Linked DNA regions of Homo sapiens: region 1 is linked to region 2. The links come from fine-mapping of genetic effects on gene expression. A gene starts in region 2. The other region holds a variant in brackets. All regions are shown on one strand. Distances are between the middles of the regions. Region 1 has its middle 78 kb from the start of LINC01395. Region 2 holds the start of LINC01395 (long intergenic non-protein coding RNA 1395).

What was found. PIP is the estimated chance that this variant, and not a neighbour inherited with it, causes the effect.
Region 1: its variant is fine-mapped to the expression of LINC01395 in sun-exposed skin (GTEx, PIP above 0.99).

The regions. Positions count from the first base shown.
Region 1 is chr11:129,690,639-129,700,492 of GRCh38, reverse strand. No RefSeq gene overlaps it. Among named protein-coding and RNA genes, the nearest start is that of LINC01395, 78 kb to the right of the region's middle. The variant G/A (reference allele first, on the strand shown) is at 4,972.
Region 2 is chr11:129,612,609-129,622,462 of GRCh38, reverse strand. It overlaps LINC01395 (long intergenic non-protein coding RNA 1395), which reads left to right and starts at 5,194. Exons shown (of 4, transcript NR_120582.1): 1 at 5,194-5,452; 2 at 6,928-7,156; 3 at 7,976-8,138.

The sequences.
Region 1 (9,854 bases), 78 kb before region 2:
ATGACTTAGAATCTGGCTTTGACCCATTTTAGTTGTGTGACCTTCTCAGTGCTTCAGTTATGTTGTCTAAACAATGAAGATGACCACTGTATTGACCCCACAGAGTTGTGTGAGGATTAAATTAGGTAACCCATGTTAGGTGCTCAGCAGAGAACCTGGCTCAAGGAAGTACCCAATCAAAACTCTATTAGTAAGGAGCGCCCTTGTGGGCAGTCAGGCGTCGTGGGGTTGGGACTGAGCTGCCCAATGCAGTTGTGCAAGCCCACGTCAGTTGCATTGGTCTTTGGACCTGTTTTTCTACCTGCAAAGTGACCATTAAGGATCTGTCCTAGCTCTGACATTGTAGAATGCTATCCTCAAACTACCTTAAGAGGCCAGAGGGAGGGATGCAAGTCAGGGAATTGGAATTCAGGCTGTTTCCAAGGTAGGCACAGGATGGTGCCTCTGAAGATGGTTGCAGAGCAAGAGGACCATGTAGCGGGGCAGCAATCAGTGCTCATATCGACCTCGTGCTCCCCAGTTTGCAATCGTTGTCTACATTCACCATCTTACGTAATCCCTACAACAACCTTATGAGGGAGACATTTTTTCAGATGAGATCCTGAGGCTGGAAGAGATTAAGTGATGCCACTCAGAAGTGGCAGAAGGAGCCGGGCGGGACTCAGACATGAGCCCCTGATGGTGCTTGTCCTCTGAACCTACCGGCTAGCTACATGGCTCTCCCAGGAGGGACAATTCCAAGTGCTGACTGGTGCAGACCCTTGCGTATTCTCATGAGCGTCTCCTGGGCTGCTCCTGCTGACAACCCCCTCTCCTCCCTTCTGTAAGACTTTTTGCAGCCACACAAGTTCTTGGAATATTTACTGAAGAGCAAACATGATTACCACCCTACATGGCTTAAATTTTAATATGAGAAAACAATAGTAGGCAAACTAGTCATCCACTGAACTTTGTCATTAGAATAATCTCTAAAGGGCACTGAATAGGGAGGGCAAGTCAGGCACTGGGGTGGGGATAACCAGGCTGGTTTAATCTAGGAAGCTTCCTGGAGGAGGTGGTATGATTGAGTTGTGATTTCAAAGAGGTAAAATGTCGTAGTTGAGGCTGCAGGAACCAAGACATCTGGAAATCTTCCCTCCCCCACCGCCCCTCCCCATTTTGCTTCCTGTGGATCTGATAGTCCTGCTTAGGCAAACTGAGGCACAAGTTCAGTGGCAAAAGCCAGAAAGAGATCCCAGGACATGTGATGTCCCTAGTCAGAGGCCTGGAGAGAGATGGTGCTGCTTCTCCACCCCATCATTAATCTTGTTCAACCTCTTTTGCAAAATAGGAGTCTCAGCAACTAGGGAGGAGGTGTTGTGAGAATGAGCATTTGCAAACTCCTCAAACGTGCTGGAAGAAAGAGGCAGTGCTTGTGTGAAGCTCCCTGGAGTTGTCTGCCACATGGCTGTGCACTCCCATTCATGTCCTGAACCTGGAGGCTGGGCATGACTGCCCAGTGTCACTGACATATGCCAAGGAACATCAGGAGGGGCGTGTTTCAGCAGGGTGGTGGACTAGGGCCAAATACCTCCATATTACAATGCAATAGATGATTGAAGACCAATTAATTTTTTACAACAGGAGAAATAGCTAAAAGATTAGCAAGCATTAATTATTTATTGAATTGCTGCCTGTGCAAAAAAAAAAACCCAAAAAAACGAAAAAACAAAAAGCAGGGTTGGGGGGTGGGGAAGTGCCCTGTATGGGGAAATTAATCTTTCCACTACTTTAATTTCAGCTCTTGGTTGCTATCTGCCTTTGCTTGTAGGTCACGCAGATCATCTCCTGGCAGTGGGTGAGATCATTTGGAAAGGAGGCATAACTTTGACAGTCTCTTTCAGGGTAGTCAACCAACTGGTGAGAAATCCAGAGGTTTCCATCTTTGTATCTTTCAATCTTTCTAGCCCCTGCACAGAAAAAGCAGGCTCTGGAGTTCAATCCCCTTCCCAGGTCTGCAGTTCTGACCTCCAAAAGAGGAAGATTTAGACAAACAACTGTGAGTCTCAGCTGAGCCTGGGCAGCCAGCAAGCCCTGGGCACGTGGACTCAAAGCAGCAGCAGGGAGGAACCTGGGGGTTCCTCTTTTGAGCAAGGATAAACCTGCTAGTCAGTCTGTCCTGGGATAAGTTGTGAAGAATTCATTTATTCATTCATGCACTCACTCATTCACTTGCTAAATCATGCATTCAGTATTTATTTTTTTTTTGAGATGGAGTTTCACTCTTGTCTTCCAGGCTGGAGTACAGTGGCACAATCTCGGCTCACTGCAACCTCCGCCTCCTGGGTTCAAGTGATTCTCCTGCCTCAGCCTCCCAAGTAGCTGGGATTACAAGCATGCACGACCATGCCTGGCTAATTTTTTTGTATTTTTGGTAGAGATGGGGTTTCTCCATGTTGGCCAGTCTGGTCTCGAACTCCTGGCTTCAAGTGATCTGCTCTCCTCAGCCTCCCAAAGTGCTGGGATTACAGGCGTAAGCCATTGCACCCGGCCTCATTCAGTATTTATCCAAGTGCCTCTATGTGCCATCTACAATATTGTTACAAATAAGACCACCCAGCTCAGGTCAGGGTTTCTAAAACATCCTCTTTCATGAGAAGAATAGCTGAGACATGTGTAGGCTGACCAGTGAGCTGGGTCTTTGTCCTTGGCTGGTCCGTGCTTGGGGAGTGAGGATTGCAGAAGAAGAGGCAGGAGAAGCTGATGCTTGGCTTCTGTTCCCCTTTACCTTATTTCTCCTTCACCCTCTTTTCTCCCCACCTCTCCTTTGCGCCCCAAGTTCTTTCTCCTAAATATCTCTGAAATCCGTCCTCCCACTCCAGCCCCCCGCCACATCCTGCTCAGGGCCTGCCTTGTCTCTTGCTTGGACCAAGGCAACAGCATCCCACAGAGCCTCCTGACTGAGGCTCTTCCCCTCCTCTCCTCTCTCTATAATGCCGTCAGAGAATCCTGTTGGAAAAAAACCCCTGGGGAGTCAAGCATTCTGCTTACAATCCTTTCGCCACCCCACAACTTATCCCTTGCTTGATATTCCAACCCCCTTGGGAACCTTTCTTCCATCCCTTCTGGCACCCCAGGCCAGCTCCTGCGCTGGCTCCAACGGTGTACGTGCCACCCTTAGGTCCCCACAGTAAGCTCTGCACATTTCCACTCTGGCTTCTTGTACCTCTTCACATGAGGTGCCCTGCCTGGGAGCCCTGTTCATCCCTGCCTGGAATTTTTACTTTCCTCTAAGACTGTTCCAAGTCACCTCCTCCAAGGAGCCTTCCCTGACCAGCTAAAACATAGTCATGGATATTTTGTCATGTGCCCTAATAAAGCTTCCTTAAACATGACTTTCACTCTACACATGAATTTCACTGTACTGTGATTATTACTTTGTGTCCCCCAATTTGACTTTGAACCCTGCATGGGCAGAGATAGAATTTTATTTATCTCTGTGTCCTCAGCCCCTAAATAGGGCCCAACATTCATTGATCCACTTTCTCCTTCATTCTTGTTGACTTGATTCTCTGCCTGGACTGTGTTAATCGCCAGGGGATACAAACAATGACAGGGTGCACCCACAGCCTCATGGACATGACAGAGGACCAAATGTGGGATTGGAGAGTGGTGTGACGAGAGCCAGGATCGCAGGGAGCCTGGGGAGCCCCGGGCCATTCTGGTGGGGCAGGAGGCTGAGCTCCTCCTGGGGCACCAGGCCCTCCATGCCACACACCTGCAGAGCTCTGGGCAGGCACTTGGCTGAAAGCATTATCCTTCCTTTCAGAGGGAAGTTTCAGCAGGGCAAGGCCTGTATTGCTGATCTCTGCTGTTTACAGAGATCTCAGTCTCTCCTGGGGCTGAGGGGCATTGGTGCAGTGGAGCTGCGACCTGAGCCGGGTCCTGGCTCTTAGGTAGAGTCCTGAGACTTTCATACGTCCTTTCCACACAGGGGGTCTCACGCACAGACCTTATCCTGGAGGGTCACGGCTTTTTTCACAGAGATGGACGTTGAGAGATAAGCGCCCCAGGAACTACACAATTACAGTTGGGAGAAATATGGTGAAGAAAAACACCGGGGCCAGGACATCTTGTGTGACAAGGAGGCCTCCCAGGAGAGTGAATCGATGTGACAATGTGTCCTTCAAGCCTGGGTCCAACTCCCATGTGGGGAGTGGCTGCCTTGGTTCCCAAGCCGATCATCCTGCAGGCAACCCCTCTGACCACAAGGGGGCCTGCTGGAGCCTGGCCTGGCCCAGCCCTTCCCGCCCAGAAACACCTCCCGGTCTGGTCCCTGCTGTTGGTGACTCAAGGAGCCAACACCTGTCTCCAGAGGTCAAGGCCACCTTGAGGGTATAGGGTGCCCGGGCACTCCACACACGGGGCGTGGAGGGAGTCTCCCGGCCGGGCCAGCCCCGGCTTCCTCTCAGTGGAACCTCTGCTGCGTGGGAGCCCTCGCGGGCTGGCTGGACCGACCCAGCCTCTGCCCCTGGCTTCCGCTTCTACCCCACTTCGCTTCTTTCCCCCAGGGTTGCCAGAGAGCTGCTGCCAGTTTTCCCAGCACATTGCTCACAGGAAATTAGGGTCTAAAGGTGCAAGGTGAGAGAGAAAAGCCATACATGGAATAACTGAAACTACTGGGGGCTGCATTTCCAGCTCCACTCGCCCTGTGCGAAAGCACTGAGACCCCACCTTCCTCGCAGGCTCCTGCGACCGCCCTCTCCAGTGCTGAGGGTGCAGTTCCACCACGGGCCATGAGGGGCTGCTTGCCCGGAGCTCCTGGAGGGGGCCCGCGGGCCTGGCTCAGCTGGAAGAGGACAGAACACAGCAGGTTCCATCCGAAGCTTTACCTGTTGGCAGAGTGGGTGGTGTGTGCTTTGAGAAACATGGAGCAGGCTCAACAGAACCAAAGTCTCTTCCTCTCCAAGATTCAATCATACCTAAAGCTCT[G/A]CTGCTGGAAACTCATCAGCCAGGCTGTGTCCTCTCTGCAAGGCACTCTTTACAAACCGCTATAGAGGCTGCCTTTCTTTGCTGCTTTGCAGCGTAGGAAGTGCTTCTGGTACACACCTGATGGTCTCCCCGTGACACTTCTGGAGGGTAGGCATTCATGAGATGATTTTCTTTTGGCTGATGAGGGACTCGAGGACTGGCACCCAATTCCAGGTTGCCCACTTCTCTGTTTGATGTCCACTCCGTTACGTGGTGGCCAGTACCACTCAGGCGCGTAGATGTGAATGAATCTGCCTGATGACTGGACTCCATGGCAGCAAAGCAGGGCAGCCCGGCAGTGTTAGGGAAGTGGTGAGTAATCCCTCAGGGGAAGGGAGAGCCAAGGCTCTGAAGATGGGATGCCCACAGAGGAAGGAACCCCAGGCACGAGGGCAGACTTCCCTGCGTGCCAGGCAGAGCCTGCATTCTTGGGGGTGTGTGTGTGTGAGTTTTCACTCCTGTTAGTTCTTGGAGTTGACAACCAGCAATCACGTTTTGAATGGCCTCCTGGCCACGGACAGTGAACTGTGGGGTGTGTGTTCAGCGCTCTGTGCTGTTGCTGTTGTGGGAACAACACCCAGAGCTCCATCGGGCCAGGATGTCCAGCTCTGTCTCTCTCAGCTACAGAGACCAGGAGCTGTTTTCTGCTCACTTGGCACCTCTCTGAACTGTGACGCCACCTCCTGGCCGGGACTGGCTCCCCCCTGGGCTGTAGGGTGTTTCTATGACCTCTTATGCAGGATTGGGAGTAGATGCTGCTCTCAGTTCCTGCCGTGGAGGTCAGCGTGACCAAGCTCCGGGCCAGGCACTGCAGCCTTGCTGTGGCAGCTCAGCATAGACGCACCTCCGCGTGGGCAGCTGTGCTGGGTGCTGTTAAATCTCCTGCATGATCTCTGCCCTGCCCTCCAGGAGTTTCCAATGTCAAGCGTCTTAGTTAGATTATTGTTCCTCCCTGGGCCTCTCTCCCTCTGACTACAGTTGCTATTTATTATCACAATAAGGTCGTGTGATTCTCTTTATTTGGGGTGGGGATAAGAATACTGAACCAGAGCGGGGTCATATACTTAAATGGAGCCCCATACCTGCCACTAATTGGCTATGTGTTCTTGGGCGAGTTATGTGGCCTCCCTGAGTCTCAGCTTTCTCATCTGTGAAATGGGGAAGATAACACTACTCCTAAAGATTGTTCTGAGGCTGTAGTGAGAAAATGCATGCGAAAGCATTTTGAGAGCCACAGAAAGCAGTGGGAGCGAGGGGAGATGCTACTATTCTTAGTGAGGAGGCAAGCAGAATGGCCCAGGGGACTGATCGGCTGTCCCCCCCTTTTCTCCACTGTCCCTTTCCAGCACCTCCTCCCAGGGCCCTTGACACATGCCCATTCTGTGTCCCAAGTGGGCCTGCTCTCCATGCTGTGAAGTTTTTTTTTTTTTTTTTTTTTTTTTTGGAGACGGAGTCTTGCTCTGTTGCCCAGGCTGGAGTGCAGTGGCGCAACCTCGGCTCACTGCAAGCTCCGCCTCCCGGGTTCACGCCATTCTCCTGCCTCAGCCTCTCGAGAAGCTGGGACTACAGGCGCCCCCCACCACACCCGGCTAATTTTTTTATATTTTTAGTGGAGACGGGATTTCACCGTGTTAGCCAGGATGGTCTCGATCTCCTGACCTCGTGATCCACCTGCCTTGGCCTCCGAAAGTGCTGGGATTACAGGCGTGAGCCACCGCGCCTGGCCTTACACTGTGAACTTTCTTTCTCTTCCCTTCCCCTTCCCCTTCCTCTTCCCCTTCCCCTTCCCCTTTCCTTCCCCTTCCCTTCCCTTTCCCCTCCCCCTTCCCTTCCCTCTTCCCCTTCCCTTCCCTCTTTCTTTCTCTTTCTTTCTTTCTCTCTTTCTTTCAGTGGAGTCTCGCTCTGTTGCCAGGCTGTGTAGTGCAGTGGCGTGATCTCGTCTCACTGCAACCTCCGCCTCCTGGGTTCAAGAGATTCTCCTGCCTCAGCCTCCTGAGTAGCTGGGGCTACAGGCATGCGCCCCCACGCCCAGCTAATTTTTGTTTTGTACTTTTAGTAGAGACGGGGTTTCACCATGTTGGCCAGGATGGTCTCGATCACCTGACCTTGTGATCTACCTGCCTCGGCCTCCCAAAGTGCTGGGATTACAGGCGTGAGCCACTGCACCTGGCCGTGACCTTTCTTTTATCCCTCTTCTCCCTTAAAACATACCCATTCTCTGCTTCAGTCCTTGTGCCTTGGATCATTCATTCTTGTAATAAGTGCTTATTGGGAGCCTGGTGTGTTAGAAAGAGCATGGAGTTGAATCTTTGGCCTTATCCCCTCTAGCCGTGTGACTCCAGGCAAGTCCCTTGCATTTTCTGCGCGTCAGTTTCCTAAAATTCAAAACGGGTACAACATCTTCACTGCAGGACTGCTGGGAGCATGGTGAGGGGTGATGTACGTAAAAACCAAGGCGCAGTGCTCAATAATTGTAGCTCTCTCCCCGAGGCTGCTTGCTGCCGATCAGAGAAACTTACCAGACTTGCTATATTGTCCGTGCAAAGACCAAAACAACAACAGCAACAACAACAATTTTAATTGGATCCTGGGATACATCACAAATCCTGGCCTGACAATAGTTGCTTGAATATGCAACTGAGCCACCAGTGCCATCTCCAGAAGGAGTGGGTGAGGAGGTACTGCCCATTCTGTGGCAGGGCCACTGGGCCTCACCAGCACATGACACCAGGATACCTTAATTCTCTAAAAAGGCATTACTCCCATTCCCACAATGCCAAGACTAAAGTCTTTCTAACCCCACATGCAGTGCCTCATCATTCACCTGAGGTCCCAGATGGGGACTGCAAGGCATGAGAGAGGGGCTTAGATTTCAGGCTTCCCTTTTTTGTGGGGGTACATTTAAAAAGCGGGTATATCATTTGGTGCATTTGATATTAAGCCTCTGGGGGCGATCTGGAAAGACAAGTAAACATATAGCACAAGTACCCTTTAAAGAAGCTCATCTCATCATTCATTCAGTGAATATTGGTTGAGTTAGAGCCCCCTCTTAATACGGAGGTTACAGCGTGAATGAAACAGATGGGGTCTCTGCCCTTTGTGTAGCTGACATTCTTGTGGTAGAGGCAGACCATCAGCAGGAGGCATAATAAATAAAGAGATAAAGGGCATGTTAGGAGGTGGGAGTCCTGAGAGAGAAGAAAAGTGGAGCTGGAGGGGAGATTGGCCTGCTGAGGAGGCGGGGCAGGCCGCAGCGGTAGTAATAGGATGGTCAGAGACTCCACCTTGGTGAGGTGACACTTGGCCAAGACTTGAAGCAGGTGAGGGGACTAGTGATGCTGATGTCAGGGCCAACACGTAGCATGGCTGGGGTGCTCAGGGACCAGCTGTGTGCCGGGGTGCAGAGAGTGAGGGGAGAAGGACAAGGGGAGATCAGATAGGTTCTGGGGGTGGGGAGGCAGATCACATGGGGCCTTGGAGGTCACCATAATTACTCTTCAGCTTTGGGTCTCAGGGGTGGGGAAGGGGAAAAACTAGTGGGTTTTGAGGGAACTGGGTCTCAGGAGAACTCATTCCAGTGCTGGCTCTGCTCAGCACTGGCCTTGACATTTGGTACAATCAGGTAGCCTCTCAGGGCCGCGCTTGCCTTGGAGGTCAGACCAGCTGGCTGGCTTGGCTAGTTCAAAGGCCCATTCTCAACTCTGGGTGTCACATGCAGTGCAAGGCACGCAAACTCATCCATTTCTCCATCTACCCCCAAAAGTCTCTGGCTCCCTGGAGAATTTTCATTTCCTTTGCTGTCAATTTTCCAGTTCGCCCCAGAGGCAAACCCAGGTCTCCAGGTACATCTGGAAGTGGCTGTGGGGGAGATGGTGGAATTCCCTGCCCCCCCACAGGGAGCTGAGCACACTCTTCCCAAGGCAGTTTTTCCCTGGCTGGGATCAGCAGTGGAGCAGTTTCCCGTGGCGAGGCGAGCCCTGGCCTCTACCCTGCTGGGCTGGTGGGACTGGGATAAGGAGAGGGCAGCAAGTGACAGGTGCCTCTGGAAGGAGAGCTGGATGTGGCAGGCATGTCCTTTGCTGGGCAGCAGGCAGGATTCGGGTGCAGTGTCAGTGGCAGCCCTGAGCAGGAGGCTGGGGGAGGGCCTGCCTGTTACCAGAACTGCACCCGTTTTACCCCGGGGTCATGGGAGACAAGCTTGCAGCCGGTGGCCCAGCCGTTCCCATGCCTGATGCTGCAGCAGCTGCCAAACGCTCTCTCAATGCAGCCTTGTCAGAAAGGAGGATCTAGTGCACTGCACGGAGACCACAGTGGATAACAATGTACTGTATATTTGAAAATTGCTAGAAGAATAGATCTTTAAGGTCCTCACCACAAACAAACGATAAGTTGATGAGGTGATGAATATATTAATTAGCTTGATGGGATCTTTCTACAATATCATAAATCAAAACATCACATTGTACCCCATATATACACAATTATTAATTGTCATTGAAAAATAATTTAAAAAATGAAAAAAGGAGACAGGAGGACTTCCTTTTTCTTGGCAGGGGTAGAGGAGTATGAAAGGGAAAATGGGGGGCGCTCCCCATTTCCCACCCGGCCCCCTGCCCAGTTCTGCCTCGTAGCTCTGGCGGGCCATCCATGCCTCGGGTTTGGTGCACCTCTACCCTCCAAGGAACCATCACCACCACTCCTCCTCCATCCCCTCCTGCCGGCTCGCAGGTCCCTACTAGCCAGGTTTCCAGAGCTGCAAATGACCCAATGCTAGAGATTGTTGGAAATGTAACAAACAGCAGCCAGCCAAGGCTTTCCAACTCACAGCTCTCCACGGTCATGGC
Region 2 (9,854 bases):
ACTTCAAAGGAAAAAAATTAAAAACATGAATGGAACTAATTGCTGGATGCTACAAATTGGTTTCTGGGCATTATAAATGGTTTAATAGTTGGTCTAGATACCACTGCGATAGGTCGCTGCCATTTACAACTACAAACACAGAGAGATGCGAAGATAACCAATACAGGCTGTGGCCTCAACAGTCACAGCTCCACAGCTGCAAGGGAAGAACTGTACCTGTTTTGAGCATTTGATATATTTATCTGTCACAAAGTAGCCAAAAATGACTCCTGTCTAACAGTTACATAACCTAAAGACATGGCGCCCAGGTGAAACAAACAAAACTTCACAGACTACCCTGGCTAGGAGTCAGGATGCCTGGAGGTCAGATCAGGCTCTGAAGTAACCAGCCATGTGCTCACAGGCCAGTTGCCTATTTTGAGTACTCAATGAGGCCTGATAGAATACAGCTCTCCGTGGGGTCCACATCCATGAATTCAACCCACCTCAGATGGAAAATGTTGAAAAAGTTGCATCTGTACCGAACATGTACAGACTCTTTTTTCTTGCCATTTTTCCCTCAACAATAAGGTATAATGATTCATATAGCATTACACTGTATTGGGTATTATAAGTAACCTAGAGATGATGTAAAGTATATGGAGGAAGTGCATAGGTTATATGCAAATACTGTGCCATTTTATATCAGGGACTTGGGCATCTGTGGATTTTGGTATCCTGGGAAGGTGCTAAGATGAATCCTCTAGGGACACCAAAGAATGACTGTACTTGAGCTCATGCATTCACTTATTCATTTAATCAGTCTGGATTTATTAAATATCTACTACATTCCTGGCACAACACTACGTACGGGGGCTACCTTGAGATTCCAGTCCACCATGAGTCTCATGCCAAAGAACGCGATGTGGTGATGCTATTGAGGTATGCACGGGTGCCATCAGGGGAGGTACGGAAGGAGTAACTAAAACTCAGCAGAGAGAAAACACGTGAAGTCTCGAGAGGGAGAGATCTTTGAATTGGGCTTTAAATGATAAATACAAGTTTGTCAGGCAGGGAAGAAGGAAATGCCATTCAAAATGACAGGAACAGGGCATCAAAGATACATGAAAAAGAAATGTTCAGAGAACAGTGAGTGTTAGGTGAGTGTGGTTAGAGGAGAGGAACCTGTTAGGTTCAGTTAGGGAGGTCTGGGAGGTGTCTGGGCACTCTCTTGTAGGCAATAGTCAGTGGTACTCACACTTTAGTGTGTACCAGCATTACCAGGAAGGCTTGTTAAAACACAGATCGCTGGGCCCCTCTCCCATAGTTTCTGATTTAGCAGCACTGGGGCAGGGCCTGAGGATTGGCATCTCTATTAAGCTCCCAGGTGATGCTGCTTCTGCCAGTCCTGGGACCACACTCAGGGAGCCACTGCGCTAGGGAGTCCTCCCTTCTGATGCTCGTATGTCTGGGTCTGTTGAGGCAAGTAGTCCGCACCGCATAGAGCAGATTGGAAGGGGAGAGGCTGAAGGCAGAGTGGCATCCAGGAGGCTTGTAGAGGCTCCTAGAAACAAAACTCCTGCCAACTTTCGCAACTCAAGAGTCCCTGACTCATCTTAAACCCTAATGTTTGTTTATTTAGCCTGTTACTGGTACCTGAAATTTTTACTAACAGCTTTTCTCATTTGGATAATGAATTGCAAATACTTCTGGAAGGGGACGCAGATGAAACTGCAATCAGGGCTTTACTATAGAGTGGTAATTTAACTATGGGAGTCTTTTCATGCAGAGCTGCATGAGATGATGGTCATTTCTAATGTGCTGGGAGGGCAGATTCACTCCTGGCTGTACCGTACCCTGACGGCACACTGTTACCCAAGTCACTTCACCTCCCCGAGTCTCAGTCTCAGTCTACTCTTTGGTAAAATTGTGGATAATAACACCTGCCACAGTGAGAAAATGTGTGTAAGAGCTTTTGGAGTATACCAAGTGCTAAACAGAAATGCTAACATATATGCGCATACACACATATATTCTTACGGTACATCTTTTAGCATATTGAAAACTTCAGAAGACTCTTAATGAATCTAAGGTTTGTCAAGCCTGTTGGGTTGTTGCTTTGTGTGTGTATGAGAGAGACACACAGAGAGACACAGAGAGACAGAGTAAGACAGAGAGCAGGAGAGGTAAGAAAGGAGTGAGACAGAATATGTCAGAGTGAAAGGCGGAGGTTGATGTTAATTCCAATTTTAGCATTGGCCTTTTGGTCTATATTTACAATAACTTTTCACAAGATTCCTAAGTTAAAACAGGTCAGGATTTGGAAACTGTACAGTAGGGATTTCTCCTTGTTATCAAATAGAAAAAAAAAATCCTTCCTTGGGTCTTTAGGGACTTCCTAGGCTCTCTCTGGATATTTGCACTGTTTTCCACAAACCCCAAAACAGGCAGTATTGATCAGGCCCAGACTGAATGCACCTAATCCCTTTAAACAAATACATGTCTAGCCAGTTCTGGGAAACCTTTTCTTAACCTTGGTGTAATTCTCCACCTCCAGGATATTGACAGGCCAGGTTTAAAGGGCTCCTTTAACTAAATGTGATTGAAGTTTTCCTTTCATCGGGAAGGGGTGCACAGAGGATGTAACATGTTATTCTGGAGTACCTTGGCAGGCGCACCCTGGAACAGCAGGCTATCAGCTTACCCACAAGTGAACCATTCCCCAGGTGGCATGGTTAATCGCAGCAGCTTCACCATGGTAAAAGACAAACAATGTCCTTTCTGTCTTGTCCCAAGGAAAAAAAGACGACATCTACCAATTTGTAAGAGGATAATTTCCTAATTACCCCATGAAGTTTGTTTTTTTCTGGTGGGTCCTTAAATCAGGCTGAAAAGAGTGAAATCGGATCCTTCCTTTCGAGATGAAAAGCGTTATTGACAGCATTAGGTTTTCGCAGTGTCTCCCTCTACAACTGAAGGAAGAATCTGCTCATCTCCATCGCAGTAGTCTTGGAGGCAGCTGCAGCATGTGCAGGAGAAGGTCCCGAATGGAAAGGCTGGGGCTGGTGGACTTCAGCTTGATCACGACATCGTTGTTTAATTACTTGGAAAAGCTCCCTCCGGAGTGAGTGGAGGCCCCGACGGAATACATGACTCACAACATATTGACTCCTGAATGTTTTAGAAATGAAGCTTGCCTTAATTTTCGACAGCCATTAAATTCTCCTCAAGGCATTTTGTGAAAAAAGGAGGGGTGTTCTGGTGGTGGTTATCAAACCATAACCACCCTCAGCCACACCTGGGGCACTCCCAGACTGTTGGATGCTAGTCAGGAGACGAAACGAACGTTTCTGTAGCACCTATCATGTGCTCCAGAACTTTTCAGCCTCCTGCCTGACTTCTTGCAACAATCCTGCGAGGCAGGTGGAATAGCTGCTATTTCAAAGTGAGGAAACTGAAGCTCAAAGTCCCAATTCCCAAAGGGAGGAGCTGAAGAAGAGCGCCAGTCTCACCCCATCTTTCCGTGTCCTTCCAGAAGGAAGAGGCCACCCTGGTAGCTCTCTATTTCCAGAATTCTGCTTCTTTCGTCTTCCTCTCACTCTGACTGCTGGGGTGCTTACACACAGGGGCCAGCAGGAAACAGAGACAAAGGGGAGAAGGTGTAAACACGAGCAGGGAGGAAAACTTGGCACAAGCTGGATGTGAGAAGGATTGGCGTTGCCGGGGACGCCAGGGCTGGTACCAAGAACAGAGGAGACGGTGAAATGTGGCCTTGTCCTTTCTCCAGTTCCAGAAGGGCCGGTCTGCCTCCATTCCTAGAGTCCGTTGATTAACTCAACAGCTGTTTATTAAGCATCTAATGTGTCCCCAGTACTTCAATGGGCACTGGGAATACAGCAGCCATCAAACAAAGCTCCCTCCCCCCCGGAGCTTACATTCTAGGGGAGTTTCTATCTAGCGGCTTCAGGCAGTCCTCTGGAGGCTTAGAATGAGGGTGCTCCCTGTGGTTCCCCTGGACACGCACAAGCGCAGACACACATGCGCTCACATAAGTGTGCACTCACATGCACTTGCCCGCGCGCGCACACGCACTGCCCCGTCTTGCCGCCCTTTCTCTAGCCAAGCACCTGAAGCAGAGGCGCAGCGCGGATGACCCTGAACATGTGCGCGAGGAGCAGGCCAACCCCGAGGCAGCCACCAGCGTCTCAAGGCCCGCGCAGTCGGCGGGGCGCGGGGCGCAGCTGGGCGGTGTCCCTGGGAGGGAAGGAGGCTGCGCGGAGCCCCCGGAGCCCCAGCCCCGGGTAGTTACACCTGCCCGCGCTCGCTCTCGGGCACAGCGGGGCTCTTCCTCCAGGGGCTTGCGGTGGAGCAGGCGGTGTCAACCCCTCCAGGCTCCCGCTGGCCCACATCCGCCACCCGCCTTTGCCTCTTAGCCCCACAGACCCACACGGGCCTCTCCTCCCAGGCATGGCCACGCTGACTGATTCCTCCCTCCTCTACTGATTTCTGGGGCCCAGCCTGGAGGGAGAAAAGTGGGAAGGTGTCCACCTGCGCCAGCCTTGGTGTTTGGGTGAGACACAGGTGGAAAACAATTACAGGGCTCTTTGGAAACAGCCTCGGCCCTGGAACTGTGGCAGAAACTTGGACTCGGTGGCCTGAAACCAGGCTGAGGAGCACAGTCAGGCAGTGCGGACCTGTCCCTCGGGGCTGATTAATTAGACACTCCTTCCTTCCGAAGCCTTTTGGTTGGCTGTTTGTTTGTTTCCAAGGCTAGCAACCGCCTACCACCACTTCTCACACATGCTTTCCCTAAGGCGAGGCTGCGCGCAGGATGGCGTGCACTTTCCTCCTCCCTCTCAACTTCTCCCATGCTCTCTCAATCTCTGGTAGACAACTCCCTACCAGGCCACCTTTCTTTCTCTGGGCCAGTTAGCACCTTCGAGAAGTTCTCCTGTGGCCATGCCCACCTGCCTGTCCTCTCCAGGAGAAAGAGAGAGTGGCAGGGCAGGAGGAGGGTCCCCACCTCCATAGGACAGCTGGCTTAGCTCTGCAGAGCCCCTGTGGCTGGGAGGGTGTGTGTTAGGGCCCCATGGGGTCAGGGTACAGGCAGGCTTTCCAGGCAGGTGGGCCTGCCTCAGTCCCATCCTGCACCCCCTGTGGATCAACGTCAACAGCAAGAGACTCACACAGGGTCTGCTTCTCTCTCCTTGTCAGGTACAAGAGAACTCTGCATTTGTCTTCTGCCCACAACTTCGTTGAAGAAGTGGAGAGGCCAAGCAACTCCAAGGCTGTTTGGAAGGAGAGCTGGGCTCTGCCTCCTGGGAGAGTTGGAGGACATTTCTTCTCTGTGGAGTGTGAAGGGAGGACTGCCCTATTCCTTGTCTGCTAGTGCTTGCCCCTGGGAGCCAGTGCATCTTATCCCTTTTAATTCTCGCTGGCTCCCAGGGGCACGTATTACCATCCCATTTTACGGGTGAGGAGACTGAGTTTCAGAGAGTTGTTCCTGTATAGCTGTAAATATGGGAGGCCGAATAGGATGGGTTACATCACCTGCAACTAGTTTTATGGCCAACAGGAATTCATTTTCCTGGTTCTTGCAAAGCGGTGGATAAGGCTGGGAATTAGGATGCCCTCCTTCTACTCTAGTCATGCCAGTTTGGCCTCTGCTCTATAAACAGCCCTTGTTCTTTTCTGTCTCCTAGATTCTCTCACATAGCTTCCCCAACTTGGAATGCCACTCTCCCTCCCACCAGTTCAACTCCTGCATACCTGAAAGGCCCAGCTAACCTCTTCCCACAGGAACCTTCCCTGCCCACTCTAGCTCTTGGCCATCTCTCCCTACTCTAACTCTAACAATTGCATTCTGTGCCATAAAATCAAACTCTTCATGACAGTACTGCCTTTTATGATTTGCTCATTGTTTCCATTTCATTCGTCTCATTCCATCAGCCAGACTGATCCGTGTAAGGGCAGGGACCGAGCACGGACACTTCCCCTAGATGCCCCACTGTTTCCAGCTGAGTGCTGCCATAAAGTTGCACTCGGTGACTCCTATTTGGCTAACATTCTAAACATGAGCCAAGGGTCTTTGCTACAAGACAGTGAGGGGTGGTACTATTGGGCTTTCAACCATTAATGAGCTAGCAGCAACTTCCCCTCACTTGGTGGCCAGCCTGCCTGGTTCCTCCAGACTGTCAAGAAGGATTGCACCTGAGTTAGCTGAGAAAGAGAGACAGAGCTTAATTGTATGCTCCGTTCACACTAAGGCACCCAAGGACTACTTAGACCAGAAGCGTGGGCAGGTGTAACCACGTGGGGCTGGGGCTCCGGGGGCTCTGTGCAGCCTCCTTCCCTCCCAGGTATGTGACGATTGAGGATAAGTAAGTGAAATGCAAACAGTTATATACATAACAAACAATCTGGTCTAAAGTTGAAAACCACAAGGTGAATTATTGGAGTATTTCTTTCTGGGGCCCAGCCTGGAAGGAGAAGAGACGGAAGGTGTCCACCTGCGCCAGCCGTGGTGTTTGGGTGAGGCACAGGTTGAAAGCAATTACAGGGCTCTTGGGAAACAGCCTCGGCCCTGGAACTGTGGCAAGAACTTGGACTCGGTGGCCTGGTTTCAAATTATTGGAGTACTCTTTTTGGAATATTTCTGTGCTTTCTGTTGAAAGTTTGAGGCTGTTCAATGACATTATCTAAGGCCAAGCCCTTTTTCCTGTTACCTTCTCAGCATACATGAGTGGTCATTTCTTACCTCTATAGCTTATAATGTGTTTTCACATCTGTCATCCCATTTACTTCTTGCAAGACTTTGGAAGGGAATAACAGTAACAATAACAATGTTAATAAAAATGTTGATATTTATTAAATACTTACATGTTCTAGGCATCAAGGGCACTAAGGGCTTTATGTGTATTAATTGGTTTGTTCCTCACCGTTTCACAGATGCAGAAACTGAGGCACTGAGAAGAATGATTTCAGACCATACAGTCTTCCAAGTGGCAAAGCCTGGGCTTGAACCAGGTCTCCTGACCTACAACTTGGCAGAGAGAGGGACAACCACCATGTCCCCTTGTCCGTGGCTGCATCCAGTGCCGATTTAACTCAGCACTTCCGGGAAGCCCCTTTCTCACCCTGGCCCCAGGCTCGTTCCTGGGGAAGATTCAGTGATTGGGTTGGTATCCTGAACTCAAGGGAGGGAGACAGGAGAACTGGGCTTAGCTTGGTCATTCCCTTAACCTCTCCAAGCCAAAATTTTGTTATCTGCAAATTAGGAATGATGGTTCTAAAATATCTGATAGGCCTGTTGGAAGCATCTCATGAGACAGCGTAAATATAAAGCACTTGTAATCAAATTCCCCTCCTCTTCCCTTTCCCTGCTGTTCCAGGGAGCGTTGCATGTATAGACACAGGGTTTATTGTTGAATTGACATATTTATTTGCTGGGCCACATTACTGAATATAATAAGGCAAGACCCACTGAAAGGAACTCTGACTTCTGGTATCCCCTGGGAAGGAGGCCTGTCTTCAGTATGGAAGTAAGATCTCAGAAAGTAGGTCGTGGGTGAGAGAGAGACATCTGGCTCCTTGGCCTCTTTCTCTCCAGCCTGGACCTTGTGGACTCTAGACAGGCTGGAGGATATCCTTTGCAGACAAGTGGGGCTGGGCAGAGAGCCTCTCTGTGTGGGCCACAGGGTGCGGCAGTCACCTTAAGGGTTACTTGCATGTTATTCCCCACTTGAGTTACATCTTGTTGAAAAGCTCCAGCCTGGTCTCAGCCGCGCCACTGAGGACAACAGGGTATTCAAGTCTGGGCTTTTGGGGTAAGTAAGAACAGCAGTGCATGCTGGTCAGCAGGGTGCGCTGCCAGTGGCGTGTGTTGGTGGGAATGTCCCCAAGGCAAAGGGGGACCAAGAGCAGAGGTAGGAGATACGGCCACCCAAGTGGAGATCCTCCCTGCCAGCACTCCTTTGGTCAACAAACTGCATTCCAGGTCTTACTGAAGGGGCTCTTGAGTGCTGAGAGCTCCACGAGAGGAAGAAGATGCCTGGGTGCTGAGTAAGGAAACTGACATGGAACACCTGCCTTCCACCAGGCAGGGCTGCTGGGAACACCGTGGGCATTTTCTCACTTCATTTTCACAATGACCCTACGAGGTAGGTGCTGTGACTTTCTCCCGTGTTTGGGGAAACTTGGCCTTGGAGAGGTTAGCTGGTGCACCCCAGGGGCCAGGCCGTGGGTGACCAGGCTGGGATCCAAAGCCAGGTCTGTGGGACTCACCTGCTGGTGCCATCTCCACACACCCTGCAGTGTGCCTGGGGTGGCTTGGCCTGCTGTGGCCCTTTGTTTCTCTTTGAGAGAAGGGAGGGAATGTTTATTTCACTAACTGGGATGGTGAGATCATTATCACCCTCAAAAAGCATGTATTAAATCCCTAATAGTTCATGGCACTGAGCACAGGACTGAATTATTTTGTACACAAAAATAATTAACAGAAGGACACAGATAGGGTCTCTGCCTTCTGGGAACACAGGATCCCCAGCACGTGAAGGTGAACTCAAGTGCCATGCCTGTAAAGCCGAGGCCGTGGTGCCATTCTCAGGAAGCCTGATGACCTGTGTGACTTTGGGCAGTTCCTCACTCTCTGCAAGCTTTCTCCAGGCTTGCCACATGGTGAGATAATATACGGAAAGCACTTAGCAAGTGCTCAACATATACTGTACATTCTCAATCATCAATAACTATTATTACAGCCATTGGGTAGATGGCTTGTACCCAAAATGGATTTAGGGATGAGGGAAAGGTTTATGGTTAAACACTTTTTTAGGGGGTGGGGGGGTAGAGTCTCATTCTGTTGCCCAGGCTGGAATACAGTGGAGAGAACATGGTTCACCTGCAGCCTCTACCTCCTGGGCTCAAGCAATCCTCCCACCTCAGCCTCCTGAGTAGCTGGGACCACAGGTGCATGCTACCATCCCTGAGTAATTTTTTAATTTTTCTGTAGAGTCAGGGCCTCACCATGTTGCCCAGGCTGGTCTCGAACTCCTGGGTTCAAGTGATCCTCCTGCTTTGGCTTCCCAAAGTGTTGGGATTACAGGTGTGAGAGACCGTGCCTGGCCAGAAAGAAGACCCTTGATTGCACAGTGGAGGCGCCCTTTCCCTACTCCACTGCTCTGTGGCTGTGGAAAGGCTACAGGGCTCTTGTTTTCCTTACAAGAAAATGTTCTCATTCTTCTGAGATAAGGAGGGCTCAGCCTTTATGGAGCAATCCTTCAAGTGTCTGTCTCTTAGTCACTGGTCTTTAGTTCTTTATTCTGGAGAGATGTGTGGCTTTCCTGAGGCAAAAGAGGTGAAGGAACTGTGCAGGCTAGAGCTATTAGTGACCTGCATACAGTAACATTGTGCACATGTACCCTAGAACTTAAAATATAATAAAAATAAAAAATAAAAAAAAGAACTCAATAAGTGCTGACTGACCGGCATACCAGGGTGGGGGGTGCCCAGTTTCCCCAGACCTACAAAGGAGCCTGCTGTCCTTTCAGTATTTGCCTGAGGGACAAAATGACAGAGCCGCGAACCCATCAGGTAAGACATCTGGGGCTGCCAGGGCTGCAGATGCAGACGGAGGGCTCCCAGAGGAGCTTTCACCCTGTGAGGTCCTGCAGTGTGCACCCTTTGCCGTGCACAGCTGGACAGGGATTGACTGAGGAGCCCCAGTGACACAAGGGCACATCCTTTGGAAAATCTCTTTTGTTTCTTCCTGGCAGAGGCCGGGTAAGACACAAGCTTCATGCTTAATGGCCTGTCAGGGGGGAAACAAATCCACAGCAGTAGAGAGAAAAAGATTAAACTAATAATAAAACCAAACCCAA